6 linked regions of the Homo sapiens genome follow. The protein of the gene in region 3 interacts with the protein of the main gene of each other region in a pairwise test. Each region holds a gene or a part of one and is shown on either strand. Other genes may lie near its edges.

Region 1 (5,441 bases), on a different chromosome or scaffold from region 3:
GGGACAGGATATTTGGTAAGGCTTCTTAAACAGACCTATGATTCTGTAGGAGGGCACCCATGTAAAACGGGCCCTCTTAACCTCCAAATTTACCATGACCTGGGTAATAGACATATTTGGTGGGAGGATATCCCAGTTATCATAAAGCTAGTGCAACATGGCTTGTATATGAAACATACTAACTGCTTCATCTGGGGTACTTCACTTGGTATTTTAAAGGGAGAGTTGGGCAGTTCCCTTCTCAGGGCAAAGAGACCTTATAATGGCATTATCTGGCCCACTAGGCTGATTGCTTTTTCAAGAATAAACCCCCTTTGCGTTTGGATCATATATACTCAGTGACTGTTCAGTAATGAGTTCTGGGTCCTGCATTAATTCAAACAAGCTCTTAAATTCTGTAGCATTTAAAATTAAGAATTTTGTCCTTAAAGCAGTTATTTTCACAATCCACTAAAGTTTTTTTTAAAAAAAGAAGCTGAATGATACCAATCTACAAAATGGAACAATTCCTTTACATTACACCCTTTGGTTTTAAATAGTTACTTGGTTTTGCCCTTCCCCTATATTGACTATTTTCTTGGTAACCATAGGGCTCAGAGTTTTGTTGCCCTGGCTTGTTTTGTTTTCCTTTTTAAAAAAAAAAAATCCATTTAGTTTTATCTGTATAATTTTCTTCATTATAAAGCAACTCTTAGCTTATTATTATTATTATTATTATTATTATTATTTTTGAGACAGAGTCTTGCTCTGTCACCCAGGCTGGAGTGCAGTGGTGTGATCACAGCTCAATGCAACCTCCGCCTGCTGGGTTCAAGCAATTCTCCCATCTCAGCCTCCCGAGTAGCTGGGATTACAGGCACTCGCCACCATGCCCGGCTAATTTTTGTATTTTTTTTAGTAGGACAGGGTTTCACCATGTTGGCCAGGCTGGTCTCGAACTCCTGACCTTGTGATCCGCCTGCCTCAGTCTCCCAAAGTGCTGGGATTACAGGCGTGAGCCACTTAGTTTCTTTCTTTCTTTTTTTTTTTTTGCGATGAATTTTTTTTTTTGAGACGGAGTTTTGCTCTTGTTGCCCAGGCTGGAGTGCAATGGCACAATCCCGGCTCACTGCAACCTCCGCCTCCCGGGTTCAAGCAATTCTCCCGTCTCAGCCTCCCAAGTAGCTGGGATTACAGGTGCATACCACCATACCCAGCTAATTTTTTTTGTATTGTTAGTAGAGATGGGGTTTCATCACATTGGTCAGGCTGGTCTCGAACTCCTGACCTCAGGTGATCCATCCGCCCTGGCCTCCCAAAGTGCTGGGATTACAGGCGTGAGCCACTGTACCCAGCCCAAGCCACTTAGTTTCTTAACAAAAAAGAAACTTACATTTTTTTGAGAGTTGACATCCGTGTGTTTATTTATTTATTTATTTTCTTTGAGACGGAGTCTTGCTCTATCCTCCAGGGTGGAGTGCATTGGCACAATCTCAGCTCACTGCAACCTCTGCTTTCCGGGTTCAAGGGATTCTCCTGCCTCAGCCTCCCAAGTAGCTGTGATTACAGGAACACGCCACCACGCCCAGCTAATTTTGTATTTTTGTACAGATGGGGTTTTGCCACGTTGACCAGGCTGGTCCCGAACTCCTGAGTTCAGGTGATCCACCCGTCTCAGCCTCCCAAAGTGCTGGGATTATAGGCTTGTGCCACTGCACCCCAGCCAATAAAATTTTAATAAAAGCATATTTTATGTTTCTACTATCTTAACTTCTAGTAACCCAAATTTCCAGTGGGGGAAAAAAAAACTTGAGGGTTTAAACATGACTTTAAGATTTTTAAATCACTGGAGAGTTTTACCAAGGTTATGTAAATTAAAAGGCATCTGAGCTAGCTTTTACCAATGTGATAAGCACTTACATTTTTTAAATTACTTGATTAGAGCTCTTTCATGTAGTTTGGCAGTAAAGTATCACTTCTATATGACACATATAAAGATACAGATATAACAGGCATGCAGAATAAAAGCCATGTTCAAAAGATACTTTATTTGCCTGTTTTCAAAAACAATTTTTCTCCCTTACTTTAGATAATTAGTAAAAGTTACAGGACACAACAAAAGGTGAAGGAGAGAGCCATCTTTCAAGGCCTTTTCAAAAGAGAAAGAGGGCCGGGTGCAGTGACTCACACCTGATTTTATTGTCTCAACTCTTTTATCTTTTTCTTCTCCTTTTAAAAAAATTCCTTCACTGAAGCTGGGTGCGGTGGCTCACACCTGTAATCCTAGCACTTTGGGAGGCTGTGGTGGGAGGATCGCTTGAGCTCAGGAGTTCGAGACCAGCCTGGGCAACACAGTGAGACCTCCTCTCCACAAATGATTTTTAAAAATTAGCTGGGCATGTATGTTGGCACGTGCCTGTACTCCCATCTGCTTGACAGGCTCAGGTGGGAGGATGGCTTAAGTGCAGCAGGTTGAGGCTGTAGTGAACTGCGACCATGCCACTGCACTGTAGCGTGGGTAAGAGAACAAGACCCTGTCTCCCCCCTCAATTTTTAAAATTAATTTAAAAAATAAATAAATAAAATTACTTCAGTGAGAAGGAAGAAATCTCAACTCTTATTGCCTGGTTAGTCCTGGGCAAGTCCAATCCAGGGAGGGCCTAGCTGGTGTCTCAAATTAATAGGTCTATGATTAGCAGCCCCCCACGTATTGGTGGGATACTACAGGAAACACACACATAAACACCATCCTTAACTGTCTATGAAAACAAGAGTCTTTCGCTATCTTAGCCTATTTTTGAAAGTAAATATTTTGGGGGAATGTGAGGGTTATATCATCTGGTATTCTGAACCTAGAAAATTACCTCTGAGACTTTCCATGAAGAAGGCTTATTGGCTTAAGTCGCTAAGTAAATTGGCTTTATTTAAAAAACATTTTAGACCAGGCACAGTGGCTTATACCTGTAATCCCAGCACTTTGGGAGGCCGAGGCTGGTGGATCACCTGAGATTGGGAGCTTGAGAACAGCCTGACCAACATGGAAAAACCCCATGTCTACTAAAAATACAAAATTAGCTGGGCATGGTGGCACATGCCTGTAATCCCAGCTACTCAGGAGGCTGAGGTTGTGGTGAGCCGAGACTGAGCCATTGCACTCCAGCCTAGGCAACAAGAGCAAAACTCCATCTCAAAAAAAAAAAAAAAAAAAACTTTATTTATTTATTTAAATAAAACATTGATTGATTGATTGATTGGAGATGGAGTCTCACTCTGTCACCTAGGCTGGGGTGCGGTGGCACTATCTCAGCTCACTGCAACCTCTGCCTCCCAGTTCAAGCAATTCTCCTGCCTCAACCTCCCAGGTAGCTGGGATTGCAGGCACACACCACCACACCCGGCTAATATTTTGTATGTTAGTAGAGACGGGGTTTCACTGTATTGCCCAGGCTGGTCTCGAACTCCTGAGTTCAGGCAATCCACACGCCTTGGCCTCCCAAAGTGCTAGGATTACAGCCACCGTACCTGGCCTGAGGAAAAAAAAAAAAAACAGCTATCTTTCTAGTACCCATAAAAAGATACAGAAAGAACACAGCCTTAGAAACTCCCTTGGCAAGATTTTTAAAAGACAGAAATCAGATTCAAAACACAAGTTAAAATTCTTTGTACACTCAAACTGCTTGTTTTGGATCCCCTGAAGGGCCTGCAAAAAGGCACTATGATCTGTGGTCTAGTGGCTGGCAATAAACTGGTTAGCTGCTGCAGCGTGGGTTCGATTCCTTGTAAGGTAACAGTCCATTGCAGATGCAAGTCTTTTAACTCAGAGGAAAAAAAAGAAACACTTATAAAAATTAGTTTGAGGCCAGGCACGATGGCTCACGCCTGTAATCCCAGCACTGTGGGAGGCCAAAGCGGGCGGATGGCTTGAGGCCAGAAGTTCGAGATCAGCCTAACTAACGTGGTGAAACTGTCTCCACTAAAATACAAAAATTAGCCGTGTGTGATGGCACACGCCTGTGATCCCAGCTACTCAGGAGGTTGAGGTATGAGAATCGCTTAATCTGGAGGCAGAGGTTGCAGTGAGTAGAGATCATGCTAAAGCACTCCAGCCTGGGCGATAGAGCAAGACTCTGTTTCAAAAAAAAGAAAAAGTTTTGTTTTGAATTTCCATTTGTTGACTCCTGACTTTTGGGGGTACTCATTCGTTATTGGTACCATATACACAATAAACACATGTATAGACATATACATACATATATAGACACATGTATCGATACAAAAGCCAAAGACTAGAGAGTTTAATTCAAAAGAGAGAAGAGTTTTAAACCTGACATGAACCCATTAGTGACTTTTGGGGCTCTATAAGGAAAACGAGAGGCCCCAAAAGAGAGGGTCAGTGGCACCTTTTTTTTTTTTTTTTTTTGTATTTTTAGTAGAGATGGGGTTTCACCACGTTGGCCAGGCTGATTTTAAACTTCTGACCTCAGGTAATCCACCTGCTTCAGCTTCCCAAAGTGCTGGGATTATAGGCGTGAGCCACCGCGCCCAACCAGTGGCACCTTTTTTTTGTCTTCCTCAAGGGATCTCAGGGTTGTCAGAAGTCCCATCTAGACCCCTTTAAGGGTTATCAAAGGTGGCAAAAGGAAGAAGTAGAAATACATGGAACAACCAGTTTTGGAGAAGCCAATTTGGAGAGATTTTAAGCTTCCCCAAAAGGCTAATGAAATTTTACATTTTCAAGGCAGGGTGCAGTAGTTCATGCCTATAGTCCCAGCACTTTGGGAGGCTGAGGGAAAATGTACCACTTGAGCCCAGGAGTTCAAGATCAGCCTGTGCAACATGGCGAAACCCCATCTCTACAAAAAATACAAAAATTAGCCGGGCGTGGTGGTGTGCACCTATAATCCCAGCTACTCAGAAGGCTGAGGTGGAATACTTGAGCCCGGGAGGTCAAGGTTGCAGTAAGGTGACATCTCACCATTGCACTCCAGCCTGGGCAACAGAGTGAGACCCTGTCTCAAAAAAAAAAAAAAAAAAAAAAAAGACAAAGAAAAAAGAAATTTTACATTTTTCTCAGCAAAGATCATGCCAACAAGAAAGGAAGTGAACACAAGGACTAAACATAATTTTTTTTTAAAGGGGGTTTCAGTGAACTGAAAAAATTTCCCAGGGCATGAGATCCAAAAGAGAAAAAGCAGAAAGCCTTTAAAAAATAAAAAAATTGGCCAGGCACGGTAGCTCATGCCTGTAATCCCAGCACTTTGGGAGGCCGAGGCAGCTGGATCACGAGTTCAGGAGATCGAGACCATCCTGGCCAACATGGTGAAAACCCGTCTCTACTAAAAATACAAAAAATTAGCCGGGCGTGGTGGCGTGCACCTGTAATCCCAGCTACTCAGGAGGCTGAGGCAGGAGAATCGCTTGAACCCAGGAGATGGAGGTTGCAGTGAGCCAAGATTGCACCA
Region 2 (5,441 bases), on a different chromosome or scaffold from region 3:
TTAATTGTGAAATATAACTGTATGCAGAAAACTGCATAAAACACAAAGGTACTGAATAACAAATAATTATAAAGTGACATCTGGGTCAATAACTAGACCACAGTCAGACCCCTGAAGCTCCCTCTGTGTCTTGTCTAGTCACATCCCCCTCCCCTTGCTCAAGAGGTTTTCAGTAATCACATCCTTTTTTTCTCTATGGTTTTACCTCCTAGTTTTGGAATCCATAAGCAGTATATTTCAGCTTTGCATGTTTTTGAACTCTGTTCAAATGGAATTTGTACAAAATAATATGCTGTGCATATTATTTCTTGCTTCTTTTACTTTATATCATTATGTAAGATTCATCCATGTTATTGCAGCTTATTTCTTTTTTGCTTGTTTATTTGTTTGTTTTTGTTTTTTTGAGACAGTCTCACTCTGTCACCTAGGCTAGAGTGCAGTGGCGCGATCTCGGCTCACTACACCTCCACCTCCTGGGTTCAAACGATTCTCCTGCCTCCGCCTCCCAGGTAGCTGGGACCATAGGTGCACGCCACCAGGCCTGGCTAATTTTTGTATTTTTTAGTAGAGACAGGGTTTTGCCATGTTGGTCAGGCTGGCCTCAAACTCCTGACTTCAGGTGAGCCACCCGCCTCATACTGCAGCTTATTTCTTCATTGCTGAATAATATTCCATTATATGAGTATACCCCCAGTTGTTTACCCATTTTATTGTCATCTCAAGTTTTTGCCCATTGCAAATAACATTGCTGTGAGTAGTCTTTTATGTATATCCTAGTACAACTGGCACAAGTTCCTTCAGGTATATGCTGAAGAAGTAGAATTGCTAGATAATAAGGCACGCATACTTTAGGCTTTTGCCAAACCATTTTTCAAAGTGGTTGTACTAACTTATACTCCCACTAGCTAGTAGAAAGTCAACACTGGTTCACATGATTCCCAACATTTGGTATTATCAGCCTTTTACATTTTTGCCAATCTAGTGGCTATATTGTGGCATATATTTGTGGTTTTAATTTGCACTTCCCTGATTACTAGTAAAGTTAAATGCCTTTTTAAATGCTTACTGGCCTTTAGGGTTTCTGCTTTTGGGAAGTGTCTGTTCAAATCTTTGACATATTTTTCCATAGGGGCTATCTGTCATTTTTGTAAGATTTGTAGGAGTTCTTTATATATGCTAGATATGAGTTTATAGGATTACAAAGGAAATCAATTATATTGACATAATAGTTATCAAATATAAAAATGCAAGTATGTGGGCTTATTTATTTATACAATAAATAAGATCTGGTGCAGGTGTAATAACAACTATAATATCAAAGTGATTATAAGCATTGACATTATTTCAAGATATCTGCAACAAAAATATCTGGTTTCCACTTGTGACAACGCCACAGGTACTATTAACATTATGTACTGTGGGCCAGGCGTGGTGGCTCACACCTGTAATCCCAGCACTTTGGGAGGTCAAGGTGGGCAGATCACGAGGTCAGGAAGTCGAGACCATCCTGGCTAACACGGTGAAACCCCATCTCTACTAAAAATACAAAAAATTAGCCGGGCGCGGTGGTGGGCGCCTGTAGTCCCAGCTACTCGGGAGGCTGAGGCAGGAAAATGGTGTGAACCCAGGAGGCGGAGCTTGCAGTGAGCCGAGATCGTGCCACTGCACTCCAGCCTGGGTGACAGAGTGAGACTCCCTCTCAAAAAAAAAAAAAAGAAAAGAAAAAAAAAACAAAAAAAAATTATGTACTGCGATGTGTTGCTTACATTCATAATTGGAGGAAGGGCCAAATTTTAGTTAGGTGTAATTTTTTTCCCATTGAAATTCATGGACCTCTGAATTTTTCCAAGAATCCTTTGTGAACCATAGGGTAAGAATGTTACTTACAGAATATCACTATCTAGTAGAGAGTCTGAGCTATTCTTGATTGTGTGTGTGTGTGTGTGTGTGTGTGTGTTTTAATAGAGACAGGGTTTGACCCTATTGTCCCGGCTGGTCTTGAACTCCTGGGCTCAAGTGATCCTCCTGCCTTGGCCTCCCAAAATGCTCCTTTGTGTTTTAATATAAAAATACTTGGTGATTTTTTATTGGGATTGCATTGACTATATAGATTAACTTGGAAAAAAAAAGAGACATCTTTACAATACTGAGTCTTCCAAACATTGAACATTTATATATTTCTATTTAGATCTTTCATTTTCTCAATATTCTGCACAGATTTAAATACTTATTATTTGTTAGACATTCCTAGGTACTTGATATTTTTGATGCTGTTGTAAATGATGCCTTTAACATTTATTTCACTTTGTTTGTTGCTGACATATAGAAATAAAACTGGCTGGGCACGGTGGCTCACACCTGTAATCCCAGCACTTCGGGAGGCCAAGGCAGGGGGATCACGAGGTCAGGAGATTGAGACCGTCCTGGCTAACATGGTGAAACTCCATCTCTACTAAAAATACAAAAAGTTAGTCGGGCATGGTGGCGGGCGCCTGTAGTCCCAGCTACTCAGGAGGCTGAGGCAGGAGAATGGCGTGAACCTGGGAGGCGGAGCTTGCAATGAGCCCAGATTGTGCCACTGCACTCCAGCCTGGGCAATACAGTGAGACACCGTCTCAAAAAAAAAAAAAAAAAAGAAATAAAATTGATGCCTTTAACATTTATTTCACTTTGTTGCTGATATATAGAAATAAAATTGATTGTGAATTCAGTAAACTTGCTAAATTTATTCTATACACATAGTCATATAATTTGTGAGTAATGAGTTTTGTTTCTTTCTTTCCAAGTCTTATACCTTTTATTTATCCTTATTGCTTTACTGAAGGCTTCCAGTACATTGTTAAATAGACAAAACATCTTAATTCTTGACTTTTCTGGATTCTAAAAAGAAAGCTTTTTCTACCCTTCACCATTAAATTTGATGTTTGGTATAGGTTTTTTATAGTTAATTACATTTTATCAGATTAAGAACGTTGTCTCTTATTTCAAATTTGCCAATTATTCTTTTGATCATAGATGGATGTTGAATTTTATCAACTTTTTTTTTTGGAGACGAAGTGTCACTGTCACCGAGGCTGGAGTGCAGTGATGCGATCTCAGCTCACTGCAACCTCTGCCTCCTGGGTTCAAGCGATTCTCCTGCCTCAGCCTCCCAAGTATCTGGGACTACAGGCGCATGCCACCACGCCCGGCTAATTTTTTGTATTTTTAGTAGAGACGGGGTTTCACCGTGTTAGCCAGGTCAATTTCCTGACCGTGTGATCCGCCCGCCTCAGCCTCCCAAAGTGCTAGGATTACAGGTGTGAGCCACTGCGCCCGGCTGAATTTTATCAACTTTTTTTTGCATCCATTGAGATGATCATATGATTTTTTTCTCCTTTAACCTGTTAATGTAGTAAATTGCATTGATTGAATTTTCTAATATTAAACCAGCCTTAGAACAGTGATACTCAACTTGACTAGTCATCAGAATCACACAAATAAAAAGTCTTTTTAAAAGTCTAGATCAGCCAGGCGCGGTAACACCCGTATTCCTGTTTCTCTTTTTGTTTCATATTTTATTAAAATAAAAGAAGTAAAATAATACTGATAAAGCTGATATCCCCTCTCTTTCTCGTTTCAGTTTCATATCCTTCTTTTCTCTTTGGAAAGCTTCCCCATCCTAGTAATTTGTGTATTTCTTTATTTTGTTTTTAAGCTCAAGTTTTGTTTTTGTTTTTGTTTTTGTTTTTTTGTAGAGATGGGGTTTGGCCATATTGCCCAGGTTGGTCTCGAACTCCTGAACTTAAGTGATCCACCCACCTTGGGCCTCCCAAAATGCTAGGATTATAGGCGTGAGCCACCATGTCCAGCCTTAAGCTTAATTACTTTTAAAAAATAGGTTATACATGTACATGGCACAGAATTCAAAAGGAACAAGTTAAGTCCTACTTCTGCATCTAGCTACCCATTTTTCCTCTGCAGAAGTAACCACCAACACTGGTTTTTGTGTCCTTTTGGAAATATCCAACATCTGTCCAGATGTAGATGTGCTCTCAGTCTCTCCTCTACCGCCCAACCAGTACCATGCTCTATAGACTGCTCTCCACTCAACTGAGTCCATGTAACATGACAACATTGGACATCATTCCATTTCAATGCACATCCTGTCATGCACCCCAGAAGGAGATTTTGGTTAACAATGGACCACATGTGATGGTGTTCCCTTAAGATTATAATACCACATTTTTACTGTAGCCTTTCAATGTTTAGATATGTTTAGATACACTGATACTCACCGTTGTGTTACAGTTGCCTGCAGTATTCAGTATAGCAACATGCTGTACAGGTTTGCAGCCTAGAAGCCATAGGTTATACTGTATCAGCTAGGTGTGCAGTAGGCTATACCATCCAGGTTTGTGTAAGTACACTCTGATGTTCACACAAAGATGACATTGCCTGATGACACATTTCACAGAAGATATCCTCATTGTTAAGCAACATGTGACTATATCTCAACCCTGAATAGTGTTCTATTATAATGGTGTACATTATTTTACTTGGTTGGTCTCCTATTGATGGATATGGATTCAAGCTGTTTCTACTTTTTTGCTATTGCAAAACAGTGCTGCAATGAATAATCTATATTATCTTTGTGAACATGTGAAGTAGAAGTACTAGTATAAAATTTTGGTAGATAATGCCAAAGTGATCTCCACAAGTGTTTACTAATTTTTATTCCTACCAACAAATATAAAAGTGCCAGTTTATCCCTACACTCTTTATAGTACGGTATTTTCTTTTCTTTTTTTTTTTTTTTTTGAGATAGAGTTTTGTTCTGTCACCCAGACTGGAGTGCAATGGCGATCTCGGCTCACTGCAACATCCGCCTCCTGGATTCAAGCAATTCTCCTGCCTCAGCCTCCCAAGAAGCTGGGATTACAGGCGCCCACCACCACACCTAGCTAATGTTTGTAGTTTTTTAGTAGAGACGGGTTTTCACCATGTTGGCCAGGCTTGTGTAGAACTCCTGACCTCAGGTGGTCCACCTGCCTCGGCCTCCCAAACTGTTGGGATTACAGGCGTGAGCCACCACCATGCTCAGCCTTCTTTATGTTTTTAAAGGCCATTAAATGGCCTTGAGTCCAGGAGTTCAAGACCAGCCTGAGCAACATGGTGAAACCTTGTCTCTACAGAAAAATACAAAAATTCACCAGGTGTGGTGGTGTGAGCCTGTAGTCTTTGCTACTCAGGAGGTTGAGGTGGGAGGATTAACTGAACCTGGGGAGCTGAAGGCTGCAGTGAGCCGTGATTATGCCACTGTACTCCAGCCTGGGCAACAGTGTGAGACCCTATCTCAAAAAATAAAAAAATAAAAAAAACATAAAGAGATGTTCGACCTCACTCTTAATAATACAAATGTGGAATAAACTACAACGAAATATTCTTTTTTTAAACTTTTA
Region 3 (4,511 bases):
ACCTACATTTGGAACCTCTTTAGTTTGGCTTTATTAAGTTTAAAAAAGAGGATAGTTGTTTCTGCTGTAATATAATACATGTGTCCAGAGAAACCTGATTCTGCAGAAACCTAAACTGCTAATAACATAGCTTATATGGGAAAAAATAAAATAAGGGACTGGCCACTCAGAATGGATACAGTTGGGTAATCGGATGACTAACAATCCTAATAAAAATTACAGCACAGTTAAAAGAGATGTTAAATTCCTAGTTAATAGAAGCTGAACAGATTGTGCTGTGTTCTGACCATAGGACACAGTGGAACTATTGCTGCTGTTAATCTGGACTCTGTCCTATGAATACTTTCTGGAAGTGTAAGGAATTGCATTTTAAAATGTTGTTAAAATGAGTAAAGGAAGTCTCAGTTAACAATATTAAAAAATCATGTGGATAATAGGCACTTAAATAGTGGAAGAATGCACAGAGAAAAATGTCTTCCTGTGTTATCCCATTCTTACGATAGGTCCCATCTTTCAGACTGAAAAGCCTGCATTCTCCTGTTTTATTCTTTGGAGATCTCTTACACTGAAGATGTTTAAGCAGAATCTTACTTCCTTCAAGGAACTTCAGAAAGTTGATGATTACAATTCTAATGGAGTTACTTTTTCTTCAGTGGATAATGTTTCTGAAATTATACCAGCAGGATCTAATACAAAAGCCAGGGGTTTATTTAAAAAAAAAAAACAACACACAAACAAAAAGAAGAAGAAAAAGAGATTGTGATCTTGAGAAAGTATTTCTTATGAAGTCAGCTGATAAGCTGTATTTTAGAATGGTGGTTTATTTGTTTTTAAGGGGATATATTTTGGATGGGGACATTCATACTTTTATTTTCCATTTCTTCTTTAGAACAAACTGCCTATTTTATTGGCATTTTTACCTTCCTGTGGGTAGAACGGCCCATGACGGCAAAAAAAAAGCCCAACTTCATTTTGCTGCTGAAAGCATTATTATTATCTAGCTACGGAAAACTCTTGCTGATTCCAGCTGTCATTTGGGAACATGACTACACATCTGTGTGCCTCAAACTCATTAAAGTATTTGTTCTTACATCAAATTTTCAGGCAATTAGAGGTATGTTTATGTGTTTATTCTGCCTTCTCAGTTTTCAACCCATAAAAAGCTTAAAGCCTTGTTTCTGGGGTGCAGTTTTTATATAACCTGTTGAACACTGGAATTCTTCATCGCATAGTAATAATACCTAACACTTCTATAGCACCTTATACATAGCAGGTACTCAGTGTTTGTTACATTTAACCATATAGTACTTTATAGTTTTCAAAATGCTCTCATATGCATCATCTCTGTCCTGTGAGGTTAGTAGAACTGCCATTATTTGATTTTATGAATGAGCTCCTGGGGCTCTGAGGGTTAAGTGGCTTGTCCGACGTTACATGGCTGGGCAGTTATCAAGTCAGGAGAGAATGCTGAGTATCTGCCTCTCAATCCAGGACAATTTCTACTATATCAGGAAGAGCAGCCCTGTGTGTCTTCATTTTTCCCATATATTTTACATAGTGCTATTTTATTTATTTTTATTTTATTTATTTTTTTGAGATAGGGTGTCACTTGGTCACCCAGGCTAGAGTGCAGTGATGTGATCAGAACTCACTACAGCCTCTACTTCCTGAGGTCAAGTGATCCTCCCAACTCAGCCTCCTGAAAAGCTGGCCACAGGTATATGCCACCACACCCTGCTAAATTTTTGTAGAGACAGGGTTTCGACATGTTGCCAGCCTGGTCTTGAACTCCTGGGCTCGAGCAGTCTGTCCACCTTGGCATCCCAAAGTGCTGGGAACAAGCATGAGCCGCTGTGCCTGGCCGAAGTCCTATTTTAAATGAACTTATTACCTGATACTTTTTATCAGAATGCTTGTCATCTTGCAAACTGTGACACTGAAAGTATCATTTTGTTGTTGTTGTCGTTATTCTCTTATAGCGTTAGAATTTTTTGTTTTCTCCTTTGATATTCACGGGAATCTGCCGCTTGATATGAGGAGAAGGGGCTCAGTGTTTTGTTGTAAGTAGAGGCTTTGGTTCTCTAAAAATGTGTAGATGGAAAAGTGGGAGAAGGTAACAGCATAGATTAATAAGAACAAACATTGATTTTTCCAAAAACAGCTTTACAAAACAATTCATACTACCCGAAAATTTACATGTCAATATCGTTTCATTAATTCTGAACTTATTGGCTGCCTTCTCCTTTCCAGTGACCCTAAACATCAACCGTAAGCTCTCCTTCTTGGCCGTGTTGAGTGGCTTACTGCTGGAAAGCATCATGGTCTACTTCTTCCAGAGTATGGAATGGGATGTTGGAAGTGATTATGCCATCTTTAAATCTCAGGACTTCTGAAGAGGTACTGAAAGCATGTAGTGTTCATGCATTCAGACATGTAGCCTTCTCAAATAAGACAGATGTCATTGTAAAAGAAGTCGGTGCCCTTACATAACCCATTCTCTAGCGTCTAACTGCCTCTAGGTCACCCTCATCTTCCTCAAGGACTTTACTACATGGCCCCCAGGGGTCTTCACTTTAGTTCCTTTTGTCACCCTCTGGGACATCAACATCCATGTTTTTGTTGCTTCTAGGGTCCTATCCTCACAATTTTTCTAACACCTCCACTCCCACCCATTCTACTAGGATTGCAGACTCTAAAACTGTCTCCTACCCTTCCCAACCATTCTCCACCCTCCCTTCCCCCATGCCAGGTTTTTGCTGCCTTTCTCACCTCTTAGTCTCTTGACCTCTCATTTTCGCTACTTCTGACCTGCCTTGCCTCTTTTTTAACCACACCTGGAACCTATAGGCTGTGTTGTGCTCTTCTCTGTTAGTACCTTGACATCCATCAGCCTTTTGCCTTCCATCATACGTGCTTTGCTAAGGCTGTTTGGGTGAGTCTTGCCACCTGTCTCCTAGAGAGCCTCGCAGTGTTTCCTGAGCAGCCACCTCTGCCAGTGCACAGAACCTCAGAAGATGTCATGCTGCTCCTGTGCCTTCATAGTCACCTCCAGTGACCCTCCCATCAGAGGGCCATACCTCGATTGTTCTGTTCTGGTCGTCCCCTTTGTCTGCTCTGACTTTGCTGAGAATTGAGACCTTCACAAGTTCCTTAAGCTTCCCTCTTCACGTCAGTTCGTCTTCGGTCTTCCTCATTCTTTCCTCCTTCTCTCCTTCCTATCTCATGTTGTGCTCAGCTTCCTCTCTGGGGCTGTTTCTGACCTGTGGGTGTTCCCCTCCCTCCAGTCACAGCCAGACTGTGGATGGCAGCCTCTGTGTTAGGAAGCAGGACCTTAGGCAGGATCCTGGAAGGCTGGGCCAGAGAGTGAGGAAAACACTGGAGCAGAGGGACACAGACCCCCGTCAGGGAGAGTTGAGGCTGCGCTTTGGTCTCTCCCTCCTCGCTGTTACATCCTCCTTGCAAGTAGCGGCTGTAAAGCTTCTCTGCCTCTCCTAACATGCCATCCTCCACTCCTGTTGCCTCAATCTCTCTTCATGCCCAGCTAATCCACCTTTTTGGGTCTTCAGACATATCGCTGCTTCATTGATCCTCTCTCCTGTATAGCAGCTCTCTCCCCTCTGCCTATGCACAGCTCTTCATTCCAGAACAGTTGATGTAAGCCTGCTTCCCCTGTTTCTTCACTGCCTTTCCTCTTTGTAAAACATACTTTCACCCAGAGTCTCTTGAACCTATGCTCCTAAAATTCACAAGGAGAGCAGGGCACAGTGGCTCATTTCTGTAATCCCAGCACTTTGGGAGGCCGAGTCAGGAAGATGGCTTGAGCCCAGGAGATCAAGACCAGCCTGGGCAACATAGTGAGACCCCATCTTTACAGGAAAAAAAAAAAAAACAATAGCTGGGCATGGTGGCGTACACCTGTACTCCCAACTACTCAGGAAGCTGAGGTAGGATGATTGCTTGAGCCCATGAAGTTAAGGCTGCAGTGAGCTGTGATTGTGCCACTGCACTCCAGCCTGGGTGACAGAACAAGATCCTGTCTCAAAAACAAAAAAATACACAAGGAAGCCAATTCCTCCTTGTTTTCTGAGTCCTCCTCCTCCCTTAGCTCTGCTCCAGAAACCTCTGGCTTTTGGCTCCTGCTGAAACAGGCCACCCAGTCCCTTCCCATTAGATCTTTCTTCACTGACTTCTTTGCCTGTGCCAGGATTCTGTCCTCAGCCCTCTTCCTTCCCTTCACTGTGCACGTAACTGTGTACTTTCCTTCCAGGCCTCATACCTCCAGCTTCCCCTCTCTGCCAGGTCCCCTGCCTCCTACCAGGACGGTCCTGCCATTACCTCAAGTGTCCACAGGTCTGATGTGGAATTCGGTGTCACCTGCACTCTCCTGTTGAAGCAGAGTCCTTTTCTGATAACGTTTCTCTTGAAATGCTCCTCAGCTCTTTTCACCCACACCTCACCCTCTCCTGCCTAAAGGTTCTAACACCTCCAAACCAGCCTGCAACCCATACTGC
Region 4 (3,898 bases), on a different chromosome or scaffold from region 3:
AGTCTCGCTCTGTCACCCAAGCTGGAGAGCAGTGGCACGATCTCAGCTCACTGCAACCTCCGCCTCCCAGGTTCAAGGGATTCTCCTGCCTCAGCCTCCCGAGTAGCTGGGATTACAGGTATGTGCCACCATGCCCAGCTAATTTTTTATACTTTTAGTAGAGACGGGATTTCACCATGTTGGTCAGACTGGTCTTGAACTCCTGACCTCAGGTGATCCTCCCGCCTCAGCCTCCCAAAGTGCTGAGATTACAGGCGTGACAGCCATCATGCCCAGCCATAATAATATTACTTTAACGGGTTGTGGTAGCAGCTGATGGTCTTTGCCTTAGTGGTTAAGTGTGCTGGCCAAGAATCAACAGGCCTGAATTCAAACATCACTTTGTTTCCTAAGTGATGTTTGAATTAAGCAAATGTTTAATTTTTCGTAATGAATTAAGAGTTTGCCTTAAGCCAACTCTCCGAAATTCAGTGTTCTCATCTGTAAAATGGGTATAATAATGGTGCCTATCTCTTAAGCAGTGATCATGAAGAGGGTGGAGGATGAATGTAAACTGCTTAGCACCTCACCTGTGAGAGCAAGCATTCTGAAGGTGCTAGCTTTCATTATTACTTTGGCATCTCTGGACTTACGCGTTTTCTTGGGCTGCCTCTTCGGCTTTTGAGACCTTTCTGTAGCAATATATCATCTCGATGAGCAGCCACAAGGTGAGGAAGACCAGAAGGATGTACATCATGATTTCTGAGACCACAGAGGTGAAGTCCTCTCCAGCTGAAAGAAAGAGAATGAGGTTCAGAATATGCAAATCCAGCAAACCTAGAGCCGTCATTGGAGCCATATTTTTAAGTACAGCTTAAATAAAGACTGAGTAAAGAAACTCAAGAAGATGTCAAAGGTATTCCAAATCCTGACTCTCCCGCCCATTGGCTTTCTCACTGACTGTCATCAGCTGCTCAGGAGCCAGGGAAGAGGGAGTGGGATGCCTGGAAGAAGTAGCCGAGCAGTGGAAGGAATCCTGGCCTCAAAGTGAGATATCTAGAGCTGGCTGTCCATTTTGCTATTTACAGGTGTGTAAACAACCATTTCCCTTACTTGAGACTCAGTTTCTTAATTTGTAGGTTGAGGATAATAACACCAGTCAGGGGTTTGTGAATATTACATTATCTAATGTATTTCAGAACATCTTGTGAGATTAAAAGTCTACACAGATGTAAGGAACATGCCTTATTTCAACTGCCTCTGTCTTTTGAGCTGCCGGTGGTGGAGGGTGGTATTCCTGGGGAGAGAGCGTTGGAAAACTCATTCAGGGCCAACAAAGACAGCCTCCATGAGATATGCGCATGTTCTCTACAAGTCTGGGTTAGAAACAAGACCTTCCAGGTCATCCAAAACCAAACATAAATATTGGAGGATTTAGTGTATCAACCGCATTGTCCCCAGGGCTGTACTTTTGAAACACAGTTAGGATCCTGCCATTTCCCTGCTGAAAACTCTTCAATGCTCCACACTCCCCTTAGGATGAAGCCCCAACTCTGTTCACGTGACATGCAAGGGCCTTCACAATCCGGGCTTTCTCACCTCATTTCCATTTGGTTGGCCAGAAAAACTTCTGCTACACACTGTGGTATGTTAGAATCTGTGAACTTTTCTTCCTCTTCCCTCTTCCTGAATTGTGTCTTTCACCCACGGCTAGTTCTGTGCTAATATCCTCTCCTGCTTTGCAGTCTCGCAGTAGTTCTAGATTCCTGTGAGGTCCCCTCCTTTGTGAAACCATCCCCAACTTCTCATGCGGAGCTATTCACAACCTTCTCCGTGCACTTTTCTTTTCTCTTTTTTTTTTGAGATGGAGCTTTGCTCTTGTTGCCCAGGTTGCAGTGCAGTGGCATGATCTCGGCTCACTGCAATCTCCGCCTCCCAGGTTCAAGCGATTCTCCTGCCTCAGTCTCCCAAGTAGCTGACATTACAGGCACCCACCACCATGCCCAGCTAATTTTTTATACTTTTAGTAGAGACGGAGTTTCACCATGTTGGCCAGGCTGGTCTCGAACTCCTCACCTCAGGTGATCCTCCTGCCCTGGCCTCCCAACGTGCTGGGATTACAGGCGTGAGCCACCGCGTCTGGCCTCCATGCACTTTTCTCATCCATCTGTTATAAGAGTTGTATTGTGCTTATCTTTCTTTTCTGTGGACTGTGTGCTTATTGAGAACATATTTATTTCTGGATTATCTGCCTGCTGTATAAATCTTAGAATATTTAAAGTGCTCAATAAGTACTTATTGAATGAGTGAAAATAAATATTATCTTATTTGTTTCATGATCAACAAAAAGGACCATTAAAACATACTACATGGCAGATATCCTGATATATCTACTCCTTGCTAGTGGGAGAAATGTTGTAGCCACCTCTCCCCTTGCCAGCTCTCAACAGCAAGTCAGATTTATGATCTGCAGTTATCCATTGGATCTAAGTCATCCCCAAGTCCTTGGTTGTTAAGAGCACAGCACAGCCTGCCATAACTTTCAGCCCAGAGAGCAGTCCGAAGGCTCCAGGATCACCCAGGTTTCCAACTGGAGCTAGAGGTCATAGATGCAGCGTGAGGCACATGAGAATGCCGTACAGCTCAAACATCTCACCGCCTTGCTACCACCTCGTGCATTATTTATGATTTGTTTGGCTTAAAGCATGCTCTCTCTTTCAAAATGCAGTAGCCCACAAATGGCAATACAGGAAGCTGTCCTCAGTATTTTTAGTTACCTCTAGGTGAAGAGGCCTCAGGTTTCTGCCTTAGGGCCAGGAGGTGACAGCCAAAGCCAGAATAAACCCAACTTGAACAAAGAGAACCAGGGAGACCTTGTGGGACCACAGGAATGGAGGAGATGTGGGGTTGATGGGCAGGTGTCATGGTGGGGTGGGTGCGTAGCTCTGAGCAAGATGAGGGCAGGGAGTATCTGATGTCACAGAGGCAAAAAAGAAAAAGTGGCAGGGGGTTGGGGTGGTGGGGGTGGGGAAAGAAACAGTGGAAAGCAAGCCCTCCAGACAGGCGAACAATCTGGATTTTCACCCTGCTTCCAGCGCGAATTTGCTGCACGTCCCTGAGCAAGCCCCTTGCTCTTGCAGAGAACTCTGTTCTCCCAGCCACAAAAAGAGGGGCACCAGAGCTACACCCTCCAATCACCTGGGGAGTCATCAACTTGCATATGACCTCACTCACCCCTGCCGATCTCACACCTGCAAGGGTGCTGCAGAGGTGTCTACATCTGGAGGACGCCAATGTGGGCGATTCTGATGTCTGCCCTTTATCCAGAGGCCCTGGATTAAATAAATGATATCCACGCTTCCTTCACACCCGACCATCCACGAGGCTCTGTGGCTCTGATAATAAACTTGTTTTTCCTTCTGTTTTTACCCGAGGCTTGCTCTGGTACCTGGCAGACGAACTAGCTCAGCCTTGCCACACTTCCCACCAGCTATGCACGAGGGTGTCTGGAGGCAAAAGCCCGAGAGAGCAGAGGTGGAGACGGCTGAGCACTGTGCTAAGGTCTGGCGGGCACCAACCAAAAGTTCCAGATGGTGACCAGGAGAGGGCGCCAGGGCCCCACCCCCCAGAGGAAAGGCGTGTAACAAACGGGGGATAAAGGAACTTCAGAACAGGGGAGTACCTCAGAGAGCCCCCCGCCAACCCCTTCATTTCACACCAGAGGAGCGGGGCTCCGAGCAGGGAAGTGACTCATCAGGTCTGGATTCAGGAGCCCTGAGAGTCCCTCTGCACTTTCAGAATTGACCTACCTTCCATTTTAGTCATATCGTCTGATCCGTTATGTCTCTTTCTCCTTTGTTCATTCACTCTGAGGACTGAATCTCCGCTTCATTATTTTTATCACAACGACATGATAAAA
Region 5 (5,441 bases), about 140 Mb from region 3:
AAATATTTTTTGTACGATTTGTTTTATAAATGAGTTGGTCATTTTGTACCTTCCCTATGACCATCTTATCTCTGTTTGAATTATTGTAGTGACAAAAATCAGTCACTTAAGCTTATTTAAAATTATTTCTATTCAATAATATTTTTTGTTTATTTTAACTCTGGAAACAAGTTATTCATTTATGCTTTCAACAAATATTATATTACATATGATTAGGTTGGTACAAAAGTAATTGCAGTTTTTGTGATTAAAAATAATGGCAAAAATCACAGTTACTTTTGCACCAACCTACATGCCAGGCCTTGTGCTAGATTCTGAGGGTTTAAAGATGCTCACAACCTGGCCCTTGTCTTAGAGGAGCCACAGGAGTGTGGATGAGACAGGCATATAGGAGCAGAGATTTTATGGTAAAGTAGATAATCAGACTAACTGAGGGATGAACAAAGTGCTGTGGGCTCAGAGTGGACAGTGATGAGTTGGCAGGAGAAAGAGTTCAATACATTTGAAAAACAGTGCAACTTTCTTCTTATGTAATACCTTACTCACTTTTCTTTCTTACAGATTTGTCCATTATAATTTTGTATTGGAAAGTGATTGGTGACAAATTTTTTATAATGCATCATTGTGCGTCCCTGTATGCATACTACCTTGTACTGGTGAGTTCCAGGATTTTCTGTAGCCTAACTAGCAGACAAGATTGGGAATAGTGATGTAAAGGTGAACATAAATCTAAACATACAATTCTTAGTTTTTAAAGACCATCTCCAGATGCATTCAGGGATTGCTTTTGTGGTATGCTATCTTCTGTATTAACTAAAATAATACCTTTATGTGTGTCTGTGTTGGTGTTGGTGTGTCTGTTTGTATTCATAGATTTTGAGACAGACAAATGACCCTAATTCTTTGAATTTCCATTTAAAACCTTCAGGATTGTTGTAGCTATAGATATTTGTCTGTATTTCTAGATGCATTTATGATTTAACAGCAAAGAGTATGAGCCAGCGAAAATATTTCTTTTCTGTTTAATTCCATGTGCAATTACATATACATAATTACATTTAAGTAGGTTGGAGCAGTGGAGAAATCTTGCTCAGACTTTTTCAGAATTCCAAGACCAAGGTTAATAGAGGATTCTTCCAACAGATCTCAGGCAGTAAAGCATATTAAATTATATATCTAAAATTTCTACATATACATATGTAAACTAGCAACTTTATATTCCTTGTATGTTTGTTAGGTTTCTCTAGAATCAATTGTTTTTCAACATAAATATACCAACAAGCTCAAGGTAGATATTGCAACTGCAATTTTTTTCATAAAGATGGTTGCTTTTTTGATATGTCTATGTTCTGTTGTTATAGTTTAAAATTTGTCTTTTAAAGTGAATCTATTCATAGGGAAACAAAATAGGAAAAGTTAGATGAAATGATGAATGTTAACAGATGCTATAAGGATCCTATGTTATTTACCAATCTTACAGTAGTTACTCATTGACTATAAGAAGGTTTTTTTCTATGCAGTGAATTCCCAGGTCATTTTGTGCATTTTGTTATTCCAAGTAAAGCTAACAAAAATAATAATAATTATAATTTTGGGGGGGTAAATGATCATGAAATTCTTATCACTTATGCAATAATGAGAACTTGTATTTGGAAAGCACTTTGACTTAATACTTATGTAACCATTTAAGCTGTTTGCAGTAAGCTTTTTTTCTTAAATGATTTTGTTATTAGAACCAAAGTAAAACTTAAAGTGATGAATAGAAGCAAGTTCCCTGCAGTTTTAAAATGTATCCTTACTGAAGAAATAGTTGAAAAGTAAGATTCTTTGGAATTTAAGGTATTATAGGTTATATAATGTCTTGATTGCTATTTTTGTATCTTTCTACTATATTTACTGACGTTTTGAAATTCTCTGGCAAAGTAATTTAGAGCTTAATGAATCCTCTTCTGTCTATATAGAGAGGTACAAATCCTACAGCCTTTTTTCCTGATACTCATCTTTCACCCCTGGAGCAGGATACTAATTATCAAATAAACCTGACAAGCTGATCTCTTATTCTAAGAGAAATGAACACATTTATGCTTTAATCCTCAATTTTTAAGGACAAACTACCATCCTTTGTACACCCTTTCTGACTACATTGATAGCCTTCACTTTTTGTGTATGTGTTCCTTGTGAATCACTTCTTTCTCCAATTAAACCATGCCTTTAGATAATGAGTTAGAATATATTTGGAAAACATTTAAACTTGAAAATCATTCAATATGCATCAATTTCCAAGCCCACCATATTATTATTATTTATTTTCTTTTTTTTTTGAGATGGAGTCTTGCTCTGTCACCAGGCTGGAGTGCAGTGGTGTGATCCTGGCTGGGCAGAAGGGATAATGGGGAATTACTGTTTAATGGTACAGAGTTTCCATTTGGGAATATGGAAAGTTCTGGAGATGGATGGTGGTGATGGTTGTATAACAAAATGAATGTACTTAATGCCACTGAATTGTACACTTAAAAGTTGTCAAAAGGGTAAATTTTATGTCATATATATTTTGCCATAATAAAAATGTTAAAGCAAGCTTATGAGATAACTGAAACAAAGTTAGGAAGGAGAACTAATAACATATTGGACAATGTTATTACATTTTTAGAAAGGCTTCATCCTAACTATAAACTGAAACAAATGGGTGGAACTTAATAGTGATAAATGTTAAGTTTTGCATTTAGGTTCAACGATGCATAAGGATAAAGAATGACCTGGAGGTGGTAGATGATTGCATCTCAGTTATGCCAATTTATCACATCTGCTAAAACAGAAAGCTTTTTCAAATTTAGATTCTATTAGAGGAGGCCTGGTATCCAATTCACACGTAGTTTGCCCAGTCAGACCACATCCAAGACCATCATCATCTGAAGTCCCTAAACTTGCATGTATCTGGAAGAGAGCTGCTAGTTAACTGTAGAGAGGAGATATTAGATTAGGTAGCTATTGTCTTATAACAAACAATTGAAGGACCTGGAGATGTCAGCCTAGAAAAGCTAAGAACTATAAGGACATGATGGCCTTGAAATGTCCCTGGAAATGTGAAAGGACTACTAAGTGGAAGGGGGAGTAGACTTATTCTGGATTGATTCTGATGTTGGGACTAGGACCAATGGGGTGGTAAAGAGAGGTAGGGGAGACTTCTATTTTATGGAAGAAAGACATCCTCAGTGATTGGAAGATTATCACAATGGAAAGGCCTTTTAAAGTGGCTATTCTACCATAAGATAGCTTTAGTCAGATAGATATAAAAGTAGATACAATCAGCAGAAGCTTTAGGTAGGAGCTTGCACTAAATAATCTTTAAGGTTCTATTCTAATTCTGAGATTCTGTGATGCACCTGTTTTGTTGAAATGATTTGATTTAGTTCTGATGCAAGAGAACTAGACAATGGGGGAATTAACAATAAGCTAAGTTATGTCACCAAGTTCTTAAGTAACCCTAGGAGGAAGAGGTGAAAGCAGCTGGCCTGCCAATCCATTCACTTCCTTGGGGGACAGGAGGGGAGAAAAAGAAGGCACGTGGCCCAGTCTAATCTCCTTGTCAACAGGACTTAGGATAAATTGAGTACTGATGTTTGTTAGGAAGAAGAAACATTAACTCTGAAATGCCCTTAGCAGTGTGTCCCTGGGTAAGGATTACCTATAGTAAAGAGAACCCAGTATCTATAAGGCACAGCTCATTGGAGAAGGTCATGTAGGCACACAGCAAGGAAATAAATAACTGGGTTGCCAGTGGCCCTTGATGTCCCAGACCTCTCTCTGCTTCATTTGAATTATTTGATGGTCTCTATCTTTGTAACATTTAGTAGAGCTTAATGCTAGGTAGGAACACTGTTTCACATGAGTCTGATTTGGCAGTCCAGTCCTGTGTGTTAGCTCAAACCTTCATCTCTGTCTTATAAGCAAATAATCAAAAACCTTGAATGATTACAATTAAGCAAATAATTATTAAACATAGTAATAGATTTTGTTTCCAAACCTCAATTCTAGGTTGATGGTACCCTGAAACGGTTTCCATTAATAGGTAATAGACTGACCCAGAGTCTCAAGCACAATTGAAATGTGCTTGAGACTCTGGGTCAGTCTATTACCTGTTAAAAAATGCCCCATCATTGCCACTATAGAACACGGTCACGTTTTTACACAGGATTCCAATTTGGGATGCCCAGAACTTATTTCCTACCAACATATAGTCGTAGTGTAGTGTAGTGCAGTGCAGTGCAGTGTAGTGTAGTATAGTAGGGAAAGGGTGCCCATTTCTGTCCAGGCCTTTGGTGGTAGAACAGTCAGTATTTAGTACCATACTAGCAGTAGTAGGTGCATAATTTAGTTCTCTTTTCCCCCCCACCTTATAAACCTCTGGTCTTAGCCACTCTTAGCTGGTAGAAAAATTTCCCATAGTAAGAAAATCCAGACTTCCATAATCGCTTGCTAAAAGGAGAATTTTCTTTTAAGCTGCGGAAGGGATCAGAAAAATCCTGTTTTGTTTCCCCTCACAGTCATGCAGAGGCCATGGCAAATGTAGATTTTACTCTATGCAAAGCTCCTTAAAGGTAGATGACAGAGTAGAGACACCACACTAACCATAAATAACTTGTGAGTTTTGCCATAATTTACCAACAATAAAGTATCAGAATTTGTAATTATTTAAAAATATTATAGAAAGATTTAATCCTATCCCTTTAATAGCATCTATCTCATTTGTATTTTAGTAGGTTTTCTTGAATAGGAGAGAAAAGGATAAAGTAACAAGGAATTATGCATAACCTGAATCTTATCTAATGGCCACCTATGCTGATGGACGTATGTGTCACATGTGATGCTATCTGTCATTGGATTAAATGGGCCCAGAGTCATTGATATATTGACGGGTACAGGATCAGAAAATATAGACTCAAGATTACTGAAGCATAGTTCTGCACCCCAGTGTGACTCACAGAGGTTTTTTTTTTTTTTTTAAGATTTTTTTATTTTTCTTTTTTTCCTACTGGCAGGATCAACCAGGTATTACAGAGATTTTGAGCTAAGGAGGGTGGGGGATAGGGGATAACAATAGGATAGAATGAGTGGTTTCAATTAGGGATGTAAGATTTAAATATAAGATACTATTTAAAAATTAAAGTGTCATCCAGGGATCAATCAGTAATACTGTAGTAATTTAAGGAATGGAAAGATCATTGTGTTAATTTCTGTTAATTTTTCTTCTGAATATAGATGTTGGTAAAAAAAAAATTGAGTTTGTAGAAATACTGGGCTTAGTAAGTATAATGTTTTCTAGGTCTGATTCTCCAGAGATAACTACTGATAGTACTTGATGTATATTCTTGCAGTTTATATAAGTTTTACATAAATGTTCATATGTATATTTATGCCTTTTTGAATTTTCTAAGAGAGCT
Region 6 (6,220 bases), on a different chromosome or scaffold from region 3:
CTTCAAGAAGGTTGATCGTTCTGTCGCTGGATGTTGTAGGTGTCCTACGTGAAGGCAATCGACATCTGGATGGCTGTGTGTCTGCTCTTTGTGTTCGCTGCCTTGCTGGAGTATGCTGCCATAAATTTTGTTTCTCGTCAGCATAAAGAATTCATACGACTTCGAAGAAGGCAGAGGCGCCAACGCTTGGTGAGTACAACTAGGGAGCGGCCCACTGCCTTTCTCCTTTGGACTCCTTCCTCCCTACTCCGCCTCCCCACAAACCAAGACCCACCCCAGGGCTGCAAGGACTAGATAGGCAATCAGAAACCCTGGATTCATAAGGGCGCAGTGGCTCACGCCTGTAATCCCAGCACTTTGGGAGGCCGAGGTGGGCGGATCACCTGTGGTCGGGAGTTCGAGACCTGCCTGATCAACATGGAGAAGCCCTGTCTCTACTAAAAATACAAAATTAGCCGGGCGTGGTAGCGCATGCCTGTAATCCCAGCTACTTGTGAGGCTGAGGCAGGAGAATCGCTTGAACCCAGGAGGCGGAGTTTGCGGTGAGCCGAGATTGAGCCATTGCACTCCAGCCTGGTCAACAAGAGCAAAACTCCTTCTCAAAAAAAAAAAAGAAAGAAAGAAAGAAAGAAACCTGGATTCTAGTACTAAGCTGGTCACTGTTAAGCTAAGTACTTTAATCTCTTTGATTACTTTAATCTCTTTGATTACTTTAATCTCTTTGATTTTAATCTCTTTGATTACTTTAATCTCTTTGATTCTGTAAGTCAGTATAGTAGATTGATTAAGGGCATGGGCACACTGCTTGACATAGAATAAGCACTGAAGATATGTTAGCTAGTAGTAGAACCTTACCAAGTTAGCTAATAAGAGATTGCTTTGCCAGGCACGGGGGCTCACGCCTGTAATCCCAGCACTTTGGGAGGCCAAGGCGGGTGGATCACAAGGTTAGGAGTTCGAGACCAGCCTGACCAACATGGTGAAACCCTGTCTCTACTAAAAATACAAAAATTAGCCGGTGTGGTGGTGGGCACCTGTAATCCCAGCTACTCAGGAGGCTGAGGCAGGAGAATCACTTGAAGCTGGCAGTGAGCTGAGATCACACCACTGCACTCCAGCCTGGGCAACAGAGTGAGACTCCATCTCAAAAAATAAGTAAATAAATAAATAAATAAAAAGAGATTGCTTTGAGTAGTAATTGCTCCCCCACAACCGGGAGGAAGGTAGCCCAGGTTGTCATACACTAATTGGTGGTTAAGAATTCAACAATCAGGCATTGGTGTCTTTCTAGGGGAGCATTATAAGAGGACCCCCATAACTAAGTTGGAATTGAGAAACCACCACTTGCCTGTTCTGACTGTTGGATTTCTTCTTCTTGATCTTCATTGGGTGCATTAGAGTTGTTGGGCTTGAGTTGTTGTTCTCCCTCACTCTTTTCTGTTAACCTCATTTCTTCTACAGTAAAGTGATCACCTGGGGAAATATAAAAGAAATCTTGTCGTCATGACAACAGAGGCAGTTTACCCCCAATTGCCCAGACAATAGGTGCTAGGTAAGTTGTCATGACAACAGAGGTGCCTGGGCCAGCCTCACAGAAGCAAGTGTCCAATTATGAGCAAAGCTGAAAGGCTTAACTGAGCTACATACTGGTTGCTTAACCATTAGAGACACAGAGTTCTGGTCTGTCTTCAGCTCTGACTCCATGTTTTCTGTCTAATCTGGAGGCTCTAAAGCCAGAGAGGCAAGAGCATAATGACCTCTGGGGGATGGGAAACAATGCTGTGAACCCACTCTTAAAATCCTGACTCTAGCTTGTCTGGGCCACACTAGCACAAGGAATGTTCTCTCCTCAACACACCACCTCCCACCTCAGCTGCTCCAGGGGCACCCCTACCGTATGTCCGCACTAAAAATATCTCACAAACTACCTCCTTGGTTTCATGTCCCTTGCTAAGGTTCCTTTCTGCTGAGGGCAGGGCTCCTGTCTCATCTAGTGGTTTGAATTTATCAGTCCCTACCCTTTAGTCCTTTAGTTGGTCCCTGGGCAGTACGCCCTCTAGTGGACTAATCCACAACTACATGTCCTCGAGTAGGACTCATTCTTCAAGAAACCTAAAAGCATTTCCTAACCCATACCAAGGGTTAGAAAAATATGTGTATACACCTAGCAGAAGGGCAAGAAAAAAGGACACTCCATTTTCTTTTTTCTTTTTTTTTTTTTTTTTGAGACGGAGTCTCGCTCTGTCGCCCAGGCTGTAGTGCAGTGGCGTGATCTGGGCTCACTGCAAGCTCCGCCTCCCGGGTTCACGCCATTCTCCTGCGTCAGCCTCCTGAGTAGCTGGGACTACAGGCGCCCGCCACCACGCCCGGCTAATTTTCTGTATTTTTAGTAGAGACAGGGTTTCACCGTGTTAGCCAGGATGGTCTCGATATCCTGACCTCGTGATCCGCCCGCCTCGGCCTCGCAAAGTGCTGAGATTACAGGCGTGAGCCCCCGCGCCCGGCCAGGACACTCCATTTTCTAAGCTAACTGTCCCCACCCCCTCTTTAGCTGTGTCGAACAAATCTGCCTGCAGGTACCAAGATCTTATCTTTATAGGAGTTTTGATCTTGGTGCCTTCTCAATGCCTACCTTGGAAAAAAAAAAGCAGACTGCCAACCAATCCAGAGTCCTTTCACCAGCTAAGTTGCCTGTATGGATGTCCCAGCAACAAAAAGGCTGCCATTGTTACTGTAGAGCTATTCCAGGTTGACTCTAGTCCCACCTCCTTTCCTGAACTCCTGCAACCCGCAACTGCCTGCAGCCTGTCCCCTCCTGCTCATATATATAGGCTGATCCTGAGCTCATAATGGAGTCTGTCATGACCAGTGCTCAATTATTACAAAGTTACAACAGCAGCCTGGGCCTTGCTTAGGACTCTGGGGCCTGCCTAAAAGTGGGCTGAGGCTTTTTTTAACGTGAATTATTATTATTATTAACGTGAATAAAACTGAAAATCAAACCCGTGCCATTCGTCATGTCCTTTTTTGAGTCTTCTAAAGTCACTGTTATCCCAGGACCTGTAGCAGGTATTTTGGAGGCACCAAGCAGGCTGAAAAAATTGTTGGAGAGTTCATCCATTTCTAGAACCTCTGTCCGGGCCCTACTGCTCCAGCTAGGGAAAAAGAATTCTTCAGTCTGAGAGGGCAGGGAGAAAATCCATGTGATCTCCAGGGAACCCTTAGCCAAGAGTCAGTTAGGAGTGTTCTAGGAACCAGCCAGCCATTCACATCTTTTCTTCTCAACTCTCTCCTCAACCAACAACTCCATAGCATGGTGGCCCCCTTTCATGTCACTGCCTAAAGTGGTTTACTTTTTACCCATGCAATCCTACACTGTCTTCCCGGCTAGTCCATAAGCTTCCCCAGGAAAGGGAAGCTCTTTTTCATCTCCTCAGCAGGCCTTAGCACCAGGCTCTGGACACAGCAGTCATGTAACCCAGCTCACCAACTTTTACAGGCTGATTGGAGAGGACTGTCTTTCAAACTGGACAGAGCAAAAGCTTTGCCATGATCAATAGAATAACTTGATAACTGGAAGAAATTTCAAAATACTGCCCAGTCCTCTCAAGGGCTTGGTCCCAGAACCCTGCCCACCTCTCTTCATCCTCCAGCACCCTCTTCATTCCCCATTCTCTAATCCCTTTTTTTCTAGCCCCTCTCACTTCAATACAAATCACTCTTTCCCATCTCCACACTTTACCTCCTACACTGTGCATTCCCTCCTTAGCGTGGTTTTGAGATATCTTCCCTCTCTAGCTTCTCAGTCCTTCTCCCCTATAGATAGCCAGGGGAAAAAAAGTTCTATTTTAATAGGCATGTAAGCCACAAAGTGGTATTTAAGGCTCCAATGTTCCTTTCCAGCACACACACACACACACACACACCCCACACACAAACACCCCTCAGAATTTGGCCTAAATAGAGAATACCCAAATGCAGGATGCCCCACCCCTGGATTTCAAGCCATTCATCTTTGCTCCTCCAGCTACAACAGGTGCAGTATGTTAAAGTCACAAAAAGCCAAGACCAGCTTACTCTGTTGGCCATATTTTCTCTCCTGTGTGAAATGGCTTTTTCCAGCCTGGGAAATGTGTCCAAATAACTCCCTTTAGATTTATTATGATTGGAGAAAAGGGAAAATAATTAGATCTATAGAAACAGAAATAGCAGTTGGATCCAACTTTCCCCCTCAGAGCTTTTTTGCCAACATCCTTTGCTTACATCCTCTAGCCAGGGTAGGGCTCAGGGGATCAGGGTGAGTACTGGGCAACAGGGTCATCTGAGGGACCCTGAACTGGAAATCAAAGGAGAAAACCATTTTACTTACTCCCCTCATTTTAAAATTATTGCAAAATATTTTGTTTGCCTCTGGTTCTTCACCTCGAAAATGGGTCCAGCACAACCTCCTTTGTCAGAATAGTGTAAAAATGAATTACAGAGTACATGTGAGGTGAACCAAGGCCTGTCTTTATGATGACAGGTCAGTTTCTAGTCATGTCATTATCAAGGGTTACTAGGACCTACAACACCAACATCTCATACACAAAGCCACTTTTCTTTTTTTTTTTCTTTTTCTTTTTTTTTTTTTGAGATGGAGTCTCGCTCTGTCACCCAGGCTAGAGTGCAATAGCGCAATCTCTGCTCACTGCAACCTCCGCCTCGTGGGTTCAAGCGATTCTCCTGCCTCAGCCTACTGAGTAGCTGGGATTACAGGTGCCCGCCACCACGCCTGACTAATTTTTGTATTTTTAGTAGAGAAGAGGTTTCACCATATTGGTCAGGCTGGTCTCGAACTCCTGACTTCGTGATCCGCCAGCTTCGGCCTCTCAAAGTGTTGGGATTACAGGTGTGAGCCACCGTGCCTGGCAAAGCCACTTTTCAGTGTGTTGCCATAGCTGCAGAGGTCCCACGATAAAGACCCTGTGGTGTCCCTCTAACTGAGAGAGACAGAGTGTTTAAAATCTACTTTATCCACATTTTGTATATATCTATGTCATACCTATACAATATACACATATTTTTTTCTTATAACTTATAATAAATACCTCAGGTAGCCACAGGATGACCAGCTCTTCCTGATTTGCCTTGCACTTCCCCAGTTTCAGCCCTGAAAGACCCAAGTCTTAGGAACACCTTCCGTTCTGGACAAACCGAGATGACAGTTTGCATCGTCCTCCAAGAGGCCATTGCACTTCAGGTGATTTCTTAGATACCTGAAACTTTGACTCTAAAACCATGAATACTTTAAGAAATTACCACCATCTTTGAAGGAAGCATTTCTCAACCCTGTCCTTTAGAAGTAAATAAAATTAGGCTTGTTAGGGTTGCATATAAAATAAGACTAAATAGGCTGTGAATGGGGGCCTGAGGGCCTCATATAAGTAAAGCTCTCTCTATTGACACTCAGAGGTTTTGGTTCTCTCTCTCTCTCTCTCTCTCTCTCTCTCGCTCTCTCTTGCTCTCTTTCTCTCTCAACTTTATCTTTCTGTCCCTACTTCCTGGCTCCTAGCTGCGTTTAGCTACTAAAGGTTGTCAGCTAACTATTGGAAAATGGACTTTTGGCAGTCTGCCGCATTACTTAGTGCTTATATAAAATTTACCCCTCACTGGGCATGTGTTTATCCTAATTTGGATAACTCATTGGGTTATTTAAAACTTTTGGAATTTTCAGTTTTAAGTTGAGATAAATTTTAAAAGATACGATTCAAAAGGGGAATGAATTCTGAAGCTTTTGAAAGTCATTAAAGTCAAGTTTACTAAGACTGAATATCTCAACTTCACTATCTAATAGTTTTGTTGTTTTGTTTATTACCAGTCAGAGATAACTTGACATTGAGATGTCCTCTCACAGTGGCCGGCACTTCACTGGATTTTAGATAACTCTAAATGATGTTTTGCATTTTACATGGGTAGCTTAGAGCCTATCTGCCATGGAATCATGACATACACTATATATAGCACGTAGAGCTGCTTAGCATACATCTATCTCATGAGTAGTGTTGTGACCATAAAAAGCATGCAATGGGCCTGTGTACCCAAGGCACCTTGTCTGCATAACATTCCCTATGAGATATTGATGGGTGGTCTGTTCTCTATCCCTCTGCCTTTGAGCTTTGACCTCAAATTCTGCCGTTTCTTCCTTGTAATTCCAGGAGGAAGATATCATCCAAGAAAGTCG

Evidence for each region.
Region 1: the proteins of ARV1 (region 3) and TMX2 interact in binary tests that used the Homo sapiens proteins (3 or more experiments, as listed by UniProt).
Region 2: the proteins of ARV1 (region 3) and SMO interact in a two-hybrid assay, tested with the Homo sapiens proteins (one large-scale study listed by BioGRID and IntAct).
Region 4: the proteins of ARV1 (region 3) and SCN3B interact in binary tests that used the Homo sapiens proteins (3 or more experiments, as listed by UniProt).
Region 5: the proteins of ARV1 (region 3) and TLCD4 interact in binary tests that used the Homo sapiens proteins (3 or more experiments, as listed by UniProt).
Region 6: the proteins of ARV1 (region 3) and TMEM31 interact in a two-hybrid assay, tested with the Homo sapiens proteins (one large-scale study listed by BioGRID).

What each region holds. Positions count from the first base shown.
Region 1 is NC_000011.10:57,719,093-57,724,533, reverse strand, and holds part of TMX2 (thioredoxin-related transmembrane protein 2 isoform 1 precursor), read right to left. Parts: intron 1-5,441.
Region 2 is NC_000007.14:129,194,400-129,199,840, forward strand, and holds part of SMO (protein smoothened precursor), read left to right. Parts: intron 1-5,441. UniProt on the Homo sapiens protein: G protein-coupled receptor which associates with the patched protein (PTCH) to transduce hedgehog protein signaling. Binding of sonic hedgehog (SHH) to its receptor patched prevents inhibition of smoothened (SMO) by patched.
Region 3 is NC_000001.11:230,994,871-230,999,381, forward strand, and holds part of ARV1 (protein ARV1), read left to right. Parts: intron 1-889; coding exon 890-1,114; intron 1,115-2,250; coding exon 2,251-2,393; 3' UTR 2,394-2,397; intron 2,398-4,511. UniProt on the Homo sapiens protein: Plays a role as a mediator in the endoplasmic reticulum (ER) cholesterol and bile acid homeostasis. Participates in sterol transport out of the ER and distribution into plasma membranes.
Region 4 is NC_000011.10:123,637,554-123,641,451, forward strand, and holds part of SCN3B (sodium channel regulatory subunit beta-3 precursor), read right to left. Parts: exon of another isoform or gene 3,414-3,898; intron 1,068-3,413; exon of another isoform or gene 986-1,067; intron 772-985; coding exon 633-771; intron 1-632. UniProt on the Homo sapiens protein: Regulatory subunit of multiple voltage-gated sodium (Nav) channels directly mediating the depolarization of excitable membranes.
Region 5 is NC_000001.11:95,150,764-95,156,204, forward strand, and holds part of TLCD4 (TLC domain-containing protein 4), read left to right. Parts: intron 1-561; coding exon 562-656; intron 657-5,441. Other genes in the region: TLCD4-RWDD3 (TMEM56-RWDD3 protein), read left to right, coding at 562-656.
Region 6 is NC_000023.11:103,707,489-103,713,708, reverse strand, and holds the start of TMEM31 (transmembrane protein 31), read right to left. Parts: upstream 2,801-6,220; 5' UTR 2,633-2,800; intron 1,474-2,632; 5' UTR 1,451-1,473; coding exon 1,349-1,450; intron 190-1,348; exon of another isoform or gene 116-189; coding exon 1-115.